2 separate regions of the Homo sapiens genome follow, and region 1 is linked to region 2. The links come from fine-mapping of genetic effects on gene expression. A gene starts in region 2. The other region holds a variant in brackets. All regions are shown on one strand. Distances are between the middles of the regions.

Region 1 (5,371 bases), 22 kb before region 2:
GAAGCTGGACTCAAGGAGTCTTGGGAATAGGAATGGGCAACCAGACCATTAGATTTAGAACCCACTGGAAACTAACCGCCATGAGGCAGCGGCACATGTTGGCATAGGCCACAGAGAAGTTGGGCTCTGAAATGGCCTTCTCAAAAATGAGGTCAATGACCCCTTTGAGGCGTTCCTCGGTGTCGATGGCCAGCTGCGTCACTTGCTTCATCAGCTGCTGGAACATCTGGGGTGTCAGTTTATTCAGGATGGAGCGCACCCTGCGGAATAGGTCCTGGAGGGAGAAGAGACAAGAGTTCCAGTGAGGGTCTCAGAACAGGCTGTTGGGAGGGACAGGAGAGGGTGGTGGGGACTTAGGCATGACAGATGCTAGTGATAAGGACAAAAAGAAGCAAAGAGGGCACAGATGGCAGACCTGGAGAAGAAATGGAGAGAGACCAAAAGCAGGACTTGCCAGTACCTGGGTTTTGCTGCCATCAGCATCTTCTTCCCCTCGATCCTTATCAGCCGCCGTCCGCTTGCTGCTGGGTTTCCAGGCTTTCTCTGCTTTGTTCAGTTTTATATCTTCGGTCATTAACACTGTGGCAATGATCTTGCGTGGTTCTTTTCGGGGTCCCTGCTGAGAGCGCCGGGGTCCCAGGCCAGCCTGCTAAGCAAGGGATGAAGACAAGAGGGGACATGGAACTAGTCAGCACAATATGTGACACCACTACTACACGCCTCCAGGGCAAACCCCTCCCCGCGGGCACTGAGACACGGAATCATCCACTCCCACTCCTTGCCCACCTGCCACTTTACCCAGCCCCACTCACCGGCCCACGGGGCAGCTCCCCACCTGGCCCACCCCTTGGGGGCCCACGGGTGCTAAGGGTTGTCCGGCCAAGGTTGGCAAAGGATGGAGTGAAGTCTGGGCCACAATTTATGCCTTGTAGTCTAGTGGGATCCAGTGGCCGCAGTGGTGTTTTATTGGCCTGCAAAGAGGACAGGAAAAGGTCTCAGAAGCAGGCTAGAGCGGTTGACTACTCTTTCAGGACCTCAGGCTCCTCCCCAATCCATCCAGCACAAACTTATCGTCCCCTCCCCAACTGAAGCCACTAACCTTGTCCAGCACCACGTCACTGATATGTGGCAATCCCTCTGGCTTCTGCATACTGGCAAAGATGAACTGAAAACCAAGCAGGAACTCACGGTCGTAACGTTTTTTCTCCTCTAGGTTTAGAGGCTTCCACTGATCTGCAAGGAAAACAGAATGAAGCAATCATACTGCCTCCTCTGGCCCTAATAAGAAAACTCAAGCCATTCTCAACCCTTTCTTCAGCATACCTGACTTATATTCATACTTCTGTTCCCCGGGCTGGATGTTCTCAGCATTGTGAATTTTGTCTTCCTTTGAGTCCCAGGTCTCATCTGCTTCCTCAGGACGTGGGGGCACACCACTGCCCTCAGACTCTGGGCCTGGATTGCTGCCTGCAGGAGGCTGATTTTCCACCTCTGGTACTGCCGGGTTCGCCTAGAACAACAGAACATCCAGTTTTGGTTGCAGAATGACCACTGCTCCATACCTCAACTTGGCCCTCTCCCCTCCCATTTTCTGCTCCCTTACCTCCTTGAAGGCATCCAGAAGGTCTCCAACAGCCTCCTTCTTATTTAGCTCCTTAATTTTCCGTCTCCTCTTTGGCACAGATACTGCCACTAATTAAAAATAAATAAATAAAAGCATGGATCTTTGCCAATAATTTAAGGAGTACCCTTAATCCCTGGGAAATAGAAAGCAGCCAAAGAACAGTATTTCCCCTTTGCATCACCCTTTTTAGGCTTAAAAGTCCTTAATCTAGTTCTTAGATTCCATTGCAGGGACCCAGAAACATGTCAAAAATGGGCGGTCATCAAGGAGGGCAAGGAACGATATCCCCTAGCCCGCCCTACCTCTACCGTCCAACCACACCTTACCTTGAGTGGCTGCTGCTGCCTCCAAATTCTGAGACAAGTTGGCTGGAATAGGGGTACTCTCTGGGGGGAGCAGTTCCTCTCCTCCTTTCTCACTCTCAGCTTCTCCTGCTTCTCCTGCTTCTCCTTCTTCCTCTTCTTCTTCTTCTTCCATTTCCTCCTCCTGAGCTGGGGAAGTAGCTGAAGGAGCCGTAGCTGGAGTAGCAGAGGGGATGGTGGGGGGCGCCA[T/C]TGATGCTGTCACCTCCTTGGCCTGCTCCTCTGGCTCACTGACTGGGCTTAAGTCCACAGCTGGTGGCGAGGGGGCTCCGTTGAGCAGTTCCTCAGGTTGGGCAGTTGGAGCAATGGGCACAGGGGATTCGGAGGGGCAAGCTGGGGGAGGAGCAAGCTCTGGGCTTGACTCCACCTCTGGTTCCAGATCTTCAGATGGGACCATGCCATTAGGCTCATGAATTTCCACTGTGTGAGATGCCAAAGGGGTGGGAGCCTGGAGAGGACTGGAAGAAAACTCAGATTCTGGAACCGGTTTGCTAAGTGTCACTTCTACTTCCAGTATGGGTTCGGCGAGAGGAGTGGGTTCTGGAGAGAGGCGATATGGCTCCCCAGTTTCACGGGAGATGGGGGTTGATTCTTCTACAGACATTTGTATAGTTGTCATAGTGTCCCCAGGAATAGAGAGGACTGCGAGATTAGGCTCAGACCCCGGTTCCAAGACTGGGGATGGTGATGGGGTCGGAGAAGGCGACGAAGGCTGGGATTCTGAAGGGCTATGCTCTGGGCCAGGCAGCCCTGGCCGGTCAGCAATGATTGCTCCCTGTGACCGGTCATCTGCACCATAGGAAGGAAGAATGAGCAACTAAAGGCAAGTGCTTAACTGCTGTTGTTCCTCCCCATCCTCCAGCCCAGGCATTCCCAACTTAATAACCCCGCATCATCTTCTCCCCACCTAAGCTATACTTCCACTTTCATCCAAAACCCAATTCACCCTCAAAATCCCACAACCTGAAATCTAAGTCATCATTCTCTGGTACCCAGTTCAAGTCACTCCACCACCTCAGCATTTAACTGTTAACATTCCCTTTCCCCATAAAAGCTCCGTCCCACCGGCTTACTTACCTGGCCGGACAATGACAGCAACCTGGGGCGTCTCCCCATTAGCTTGAGGCTCCAGACCGCCTCCCGTCTGCAGGACACAAAGGGTTACCAAGTTTGCACTGAAGAGTCCCACAACCCTTCTTTACTAGAGCCATTTCTACTTTAGCTCTGCCTAGAAATCCAGGAAAGCAGGGAAATAAATCCCTTAGTTGAAAGAAAAGATCCAGGGACTTGGGAGTCCAGGGCAGAACAGACATCCCAGCCAGGGTATCACTCGAAAAGCAGACAGTACCTGGGGAGGGGTGGGTGTGGAGGCAGTGCGGGCCCCAGACATGATCTCCTCTGTGATATCCTTTCCTCCTTGGTTTGGATCTCGAATTCGGATCTGGGGAAAGAAAGCTATAAGATGAGTGGGAAGCAGGAAGAGCCCACCTCTCCACCCTGCCCCAATCTTAAGACTCTGGGCCAACTCCCCACCCCCCAGCGGGAAGCAGGTAGGTAGGTGCCAGAAACCCCTTGAGTTCCACTTTCAGCCCATCTGGCTGCTCTCGTAGTCCCTGCCCCAGCTCCCACCCTTAAGAGACCCTTGATCTCACAGAGCAGCCCTGTACATCACAATGCCCCTCCCTCCCTCATCCCTACCCCACCAGCAGTCCCCAAGTCAGTGGCTGCACACCCTGGGGCCCAGGACCCCCATCTAGAACCCAATCGGCTCACTTGTGGCTAGTGTGCCTGATCTCTGGGGGCAGGGCCCAGATCCAGTAGGTGGAGCCAGGGTGACTCAGCGGCTTCCCCAGCTCTGGCACCCTATTCTGGGCACCACGCCCAGGGCTTGAGGACTGAGCAGAGGCGGAGGCCTTGAGAGCTTCCAGGACTGGGGGGGCAGGGGGGAATGGGGGCTGGGGCCACAGAAAACAAACCATTTCCAAGGCAAGCCACTAGAAACCCAAAACCAAGCATAGTTCTTCCAACCCCCCAGCACCCAGGTCTCGCAGGAACTTCCTCGCTAGGCACTTCAGTCTTCCCATGACCTGCTTCTATGCTGAAATCTTAGCATCTTACAAAGAACCTGAGCCCTCCACAGACACCATTCTCTGCCCACTCTCAGCTCCTTCCTCCTCAAGTCACTGCTCTTTCCGGCACAATGTCCCAGCAGCACCTGACCTTGATTCTCCCCTTCCCAGATGTCCCGGAGCCCCTCACTGCTACTCACCGTCTTACGCTCCCTCTTGGGAGCAATCTGGGGTGGCTGGTTCATCAAAACTGGGGTGGGGGCCACGCCAGTGGGAAACTGCTGCACCCCTTGGGCTGGATAGTAGGCGCCAGCTTGGGGGAGGGGGGACGGAGAAGAATGGTGGTAGCGTCAGGGCCCAACCATATACTAATGCCTGCCTGACACCTCCCACCCCAAAACCTCTCACCACCCACAGCCGGCCCCTTGCCTTGCCCTGCCCTGCCCTCCTCCCCCAGGGAATTAGGTGTCTGTCAAAGCTGGGGAACCAGTCTGAACTGCGTTTACAAGAATTCCTAACACACACACACACACAAACACACACACACACACACACACACACACACACACACACACCCCTCGTAGGCAGGCACTCTTTCCTACCACACACCAGTGACCAGGAGGACTTATGTCTGTCCTTCCACCGTACAAGTTACTCTCGTGTGTGTACCCCACCCGCTATCAACATGTACACACATACTCTGAACCTGAAACAGAACCAGGTCTTTGGCTGGTAATGAGAGAAAGAGATCTGCCAACCCTGTTCCATTTAACTTGAGTCTAGTTCCTGTCTCCAGCCCTTTACAAAGGGGCAAAGAAACAAAGTAACATTATGAACTAGGCTCAAGATGAAGAAAAATTAATTCCTTAAAGCAAACTATCTCCAAAGTGGGTGAGTTCTTTTTTCCCCTTAATTTTTTTTTTTTTTTGAGATGGAGTCTCACTCTATTGCCCAGGCTGGAATACAGTGGCACAATCTTGGTTCACTGCAATCTCCACATCCCGGGTTCAAGCGATCCTCCTGCCTCAGCCTCCCGAATAGCTGGGATTACAAGAGTGCATCACCAGGCCTAATTTTTGTATTTTTAGTTGAGACAGGGCCAGGCGTGGTGGCTCACGCCTATAATCTCAGCACTTTGGGAGGCTGAGGCAGGTGGATCACTTGAGGCCAGGAGTTCGAGACCAGCCTGGTCAACATGATGAAACACCATCTCTACTAAAAACACAAAAATTAGCTGGGTGTGGTGGCACACGCCTGTAATCCCAGCTACTCGGGAGGCTGAGGCAGGAGAATCACTTGAACCCAAGAGGCGGAGGCTG
Region 2 (5,371 bases):
CTCAGGCTCAGGCACGTAATTCACACAACTACAAAAGTAAAAGTAACAAAGAATTCAGAAAGTCCCAGGCACTCATTTTCCCCATGAATTCACTTACCCAAAATAAATAATAAATATCTACTATATACACCAGGCACTGTGCTAGATGTTAGAACTACTAAGAAGACACAAAGTCTCTGTCCTCAAGAAACTCACACACATCAAAAGATTAACTACAGCGTGATGCTATGCTTGAGCAAATGCTCTGGGAAAATAGAGGAGGCGCAATTGAGAGAGAGGTGCTGAGGAGGGCATGCCTGCCACCCTTCCCTACCATGTTCACTCACCTGGTGAGATAAAGGCAGACCTTTGCATATGCATTTTCATCAATGTCCTTCTCCAGCATGTCCACCTGCTCAATTTCCATAAGCAGGTCGCAAGCCTCATGCTCTGCATTGTGGGCCATGTTATAGGGGACGATTTCCTTCACCAGAGTGAGCAGAGGCTCCCGCTGGACCTTCTCTGCGTCATCCAGCTCCTGCCACTCCTTAGCCACTTCTCCTGCCAGATGCCTACAGATAGTCCCAGACGATTAAGAGAGCACAGCTTCAGGGGAAGCACTTCTCTGTGGGTCAAGGAATCCAGCGTCTGGGAAATTCAATACACTGATGCTCCAAGACAGATTGTACTCCACAAGAAAATTCTGAATTATCTCAGAGCCTCAGAGCCCCCTTCGGATTCCCAAGAAGAAAGATCTTACCTGACATACTCATGACCCCATGATGCCAATTCCTCCTGGGAGCCCACTAGCCGATACTTGAGGCACTCACGCTCCCCACTCATGGTCATGGCCAAAACGGAGATGATGTCAGCAGCAAAACGCTATAAAGAAAAGAGTTCTTTGAAGTCAAACCCAGCAGTCCAGCATAAAGGGAGCATGCATTGTGGAATCAAGATCATTGTCTCCGAAACTGAACTAACTACATACCAATCTCTGTACTAGAAATTTAACATGTTATGTAAGCTAAACCTCACAAAAACCAAGGTTGGTGTTGTTGCTATCTCCTTTTTTTTTTTTTTTTGAGACTCAGTTTCGCTCTTGCTGCCCAGGCTGGAGTGCAATGGTGTGCTCTCGGTTCACTGCAACCTCTGCCTCCGGGGTTCAAGTGATTCTCCTGCCTCAGCTTCCTAAGTAGCTGGGATTACAGGCGCCCACCACCACACCCAGCTAATTTTTTTTTTTTTAATTTTTAGTAGAGACGGGGTTTCACCATGTTGGCCAGGATGGTCTAAAACTCCTGACCTCAGGTGATCCACCCCTCGGCCTCCCAAAGTGCTAGGGTTACAGGTGTGAGCCACCACACCCAGCCACTGTCTTCCTTTTAAACTAACACAGCTGAAGGGTGATAAATGAGGGATAAAGTGGAAAAAAATGGAGGCTCTCAATTTTACTTTAATTGCAATTATAAACTATTAAAAGGTCTTAAGCAGAAAAGACCTATAACCGAGAAAGATCACGATAGCTGCTACATGAGAGACAGACTGTGTAGGAACAAAGCACAAAAGCAACAACATCAGTTAAGAGGTGCTGCAATAACCCATGCAAAAACTGAACATTTCCAGGATTAGGGTTGTACCAGCAGGCAGAGAAGTGACTGAATGTGGAACATATTTTAGAGATAAATGAATGTATATGGGATAGAAGAAAAGAGAAAAATCAAGGTTAAACATACGTTAAAAGTAGACCATGCTAATGAAACCCCAAAGTCCAATACACATGACAGAAACAGTGTCTTCTGAGAAGCTGACCTTCCTTTCAGCTCTTCTGTAGATATTTTGACTGTGATGAACTCTGCTCAAATAGATCACGGCTTAGGTCTATCAGGCTTCCTGTGACTCACAATGAGTCCCCCCATGATCTGGGTAAAAAGGAATTCCTAAACTAGGCCTCCACCAGGTTTGAAACAGTTTTACCTTATTCTCCCCAGGGGCCATGTTCTCATAGATTTCCTTCAGTTTGCCATAGTGTGGACGCAGAAATTTGAGAGGCTTGGGCACTGAAGTCATGGAAGTTGTAGAAGAACGAATCTGCCTTCGCAATTCCTCCAGCGCTGGTCGATACAGGGATGTATCCTTCTCCTGATCAAGAGACGACAGGGCTCAGACAAAAAGGAGTCACACCCCTTCAAGTCATAATACAGAGATATTTAACTTAACAACTCCTCCAAGGAAATGCTGTGTCTTATTCATTCATCTGTGATTCCTCAACTCCCTGCACCCTGCCTGGCACAAAAACAAATGACCCAAGTTAAGAGGTAAGAACTCTGCTTCTCCCACAAGAGAAAGCTGCAAAACTGTACAAATACCCTTTGTAACTCTCCTGCCTCCCAACATCATCATAACACTGACCCTAAAATACAGTCCACCGTACATAGCAGTTGCCTCAAAAAAGAATAAAACAAGTGGGAAAGATCCAAACATGCACCGAATCATGTTAACATCGTGACTCACCCCTAGTCGTTCCACGAGCATCTCCAGTTCATCTTGAAGCTGTTTATCCTCTTCAGACTGGAGGGTTGGGAGAAGCAGCTCATGAAGAGAAGGAATCCCAAAGACGTCCTCCTCCCACTTACCCGGGGCAGGTGAAGAATAAGCCTGCCTCCTTAGGAGGGGCCAGGTGGACAAGGAAACCGAGTGGGAATGGGAAGCCCTGGTGAGAAATCAGCCTGGGTTCTGAATCAGGCTCTACTTGAATGCCACTCTAGGAAACGGAGGTGACAATGACCTGCCCGAGTCCACTTCACGCGGCGGTGGTGAGGGTTGGTGGGGACGGCGGAGGTGACAGCGCGGAACGGAGAATGAGGAGCAGAGAGGCAAGGTGCCGGGAGTCCCGAGGGTCGCCCCAACCGCCCTCTCCCTGGCGCGGTGGGGTAGTTGGGTGTCGGGCCTGAGGCCTGCGGAGCCGCCGTGACTCAGCCCCGCAGCCTCCTTCGCCGACTCTCGGGGTCGCGCCTCACCAGCTCCTGTTCTTTGTCCTTGTCCCCGGCATCCCGCCGCTCCTTGCCGCTCGGCTTCTCGTCCGTGCCGCCGGGGGCCGCCGCTGGAGACTGCTGGGGCTGCACCGGCGCCTTGTCCCGGCCTCCCTCCTCCATCTCCGCCGCCACTGCCGGCCCGCTGCGCGCGCACCCGCTCGCACCGCCCTTTTTCCCAGACCAACTCGCGCGCGTCGGTCGCGGCGCCCCTCCTCCTCCAGAGCCCGCCTGCGACCGGAAACGCCGGGGCGAGCCGGGGCGCTCGGCGACCCACCCACCCCCTCGGCCTGAGAGCCCCGCCCTCGGACCCCGCCCTCGGAGGCAGGTGGAGACTACAATTCCCAGCCTCCCCCGCGCCATAGTCGCCCCTGGCCCCCGACCTCTTCGGAGTTTCCTGAAACCCGCGGGACTTGGCCGTGTGGGGTTTGGGTTCGCTCACTGCTGTAGATGGGCGGTCTGCGAGCGGAGTTACCGAGTTTTACTCCGCCACAGGTTTTTCTCATAACGGTGTAAATAGAACCCACAGTGACACTCCAGTTGACTGCGTGGCGCGACAGACAAACTAGATTTCTTGACGTCCAGGACGCTTGATTGCCGCCTGTATAAAGTCTGTGTAACTGTGTCTAGCCCCACACCACTGTGGAATATTAACCTCATTTGGTTTTGTTGTTGTTGTTGCTTTTGAGAAGGAGGCTCGCTCTCTCGCCCAGGCTGGAGTGCAGTGGCGCGATCTCGGCTCACTGCAAACTCCGCCTACCAGGTTCAAGTGATTCTCGTGCCTCAACCTCCCGAGTAGCTGGGATTACAGGCGCCCGCCACCACGCCCAGCTAATTTTTGTATTTTTTAGTAGAGACGGGGGTTTCACTATGTTGGCCAGGCTGGTCTCGAACTCCTGACCTCAAGTGATCTGCCCGCCTCAGCCTCCCAAAGAGCTGTAATTACAGGTGTGAACCACCGCGCCCGGCCTATTAACCTCATTTGATATTCCTCCCCAGTTGAAAGAGAGTACTCTGCTATTCCCGTGGCTACCATTTTAAATACTTTGGGGAGCCAGGTGGAGTTGACATCGATCAATAAAGCCCTGTGCTCCCCGCCAAGTTCTGGAGCTAAAAGCAGAACAAGACAAGGTCTTCGTCCTCTATCTTCTCGTCTTTCCCTGTGAAGCCTTAGAGGCGTGTGACTGACGCGCTTATGTCAGGACTGCTTTCGAGTGATTCCATGCACTTCTTACAATCTTTTGAGATTGGTAGGGTTAGGTCCATTTTACAGAGAAGATCATATCAAGTAGTAAAATGAGGATTTATTTTTTATTTTATTTATTTGTTTTGAGATAGTGTTTCTCTCCTGTTGCCCAGGCTGGAGTGCAATGGCGCAATCTCGGCTCACCACAACCTTCGCCTCCCGGGTGCAAGTGATTCTCCTGCCTCAGCCTCCCGAGTAGCTGGATAAAGAGGAGTTTTAGAAAAAAATCCCTCTACAGATGACTGAAGAAAGCATGAAAATGTATGGACACCGTGAAGCCAGAGATAGAATAGGCAGAACAGTTATGGACTGTTGAATTTTTGTGCCACCACGCCCGGCTAATTTTTGTATTTTTAGTAGAGACGGGGTTTCTCCATGTTGGTCAGGCTGGTCTCCAACTCCCGACCTCAGGTGATCCGCCCGCCTCGGCCTCCCAAAGTTCTGGGATTACAAGCGTGAGCCACCGCGCCCGGCGGAATCAAAATTTAAAGCTCAGTCTTTCAGTCTTCAAAGCCCTTGACTGTTTTAGGCAAACCCCAGAGTTTCTTCTTCAGCTGTGTGTGTGTGTGTGTGCGTGTAAGGTGAGAAAAAAGGAAGTATCTCTTCTCCCTTTCACCTAGTGGGAACACTCAGGAGTCTTCTAGCAATCTTATTTTATGGGTTCTGACACATTGAAGAAAAAGACACCTAGTACAACATATCACAGAGTGAATGTTGGGTAAATGTTTGTGTAGATACGGAAGTAAAGGTCTGAATCCATTTTAAATACCTGTTGCTCTTTTCCACTCAGTGCTTGGATTCTAGGCATGACCTTCCATTGCCATTGCCAATGACTCCCCCAGCGCTGGTCTGCAGACAAAAATTCAACAGTCCATAACTGTTCTGCCTATTCTATCTCTGGCTTCACGGTGTCCATACATTTTCATGCTTTCTTCAGTCATCTGTAGAGGGATTTTTTTCTAAAACTCCTCTTTATCCATGACTTCCTTCTTCTTTTTTTTTTTTTTTTCCAGACGGAGTCTCGCTCTGTCGTCCAGGCTGGAGTGCAGTGGCATGATCTCAGCTTGCTGCAACCTCTGCCTCCCGGGTTCAGGTGATTTTCCTGCTTCAGCCTCCC

Evidence for each region. PIP is the estimated chance that this variant, and not a neighbour inherited with it, causes the effect. A credible set is the group of variants that fine-mapping cannot tell apart.
Region 1: its variant is the best candidate, but not a certain one, in a credible set for the expression of PSMD2 in whole blood (INTERVAL, PIP 0.69).

Annotation. Positions count from the first base shown.
Region 1 is chr3:184,318,683-184,324,053 of GRCh38, reverse strand. It overlaps EIF4G1 (eukaryotic translation initiation factor 4 gamma 1), which reads right to left. Exons shown (of 33, transcript NM_198241.3): 7 at 4,253-4,365; 8 at 3,332-3,424; 9 at 3,061-3,127; 10 at 1,951-2,772; 11 at 1,604-1,692; 12 at 1,324-1,510; 13 at 1,100-1,233; 14 at 813-971; 15 at 461-646; 16 at 77-274. Among named protein-coding and RNA genes, the nearest start is that of SNORD66, 4.3 kb to the left of the region's middle. The variant T/C (reference allele first, on the strand shown) is at 2,176.
Region 2 is chr3:184,297,027-184,302,397 of GRCh38, reverse strand. It overlaps PSMD2 (proteasome 26S subunit ubiquitin receptor, non-ATPase 2), which reads right to left and starts at 3,157. Exons shown (of 21, transcript NM_002808.5): 1 at 2,997-3,157; 2 at 2,491-2,547; 3 at 1,954-2,118; 4 at 740-861; 5 at 327-551; 6 at 1-28. The coding sequence starts at 3,131. RefSeq lists a silencer at 3,150-3,489.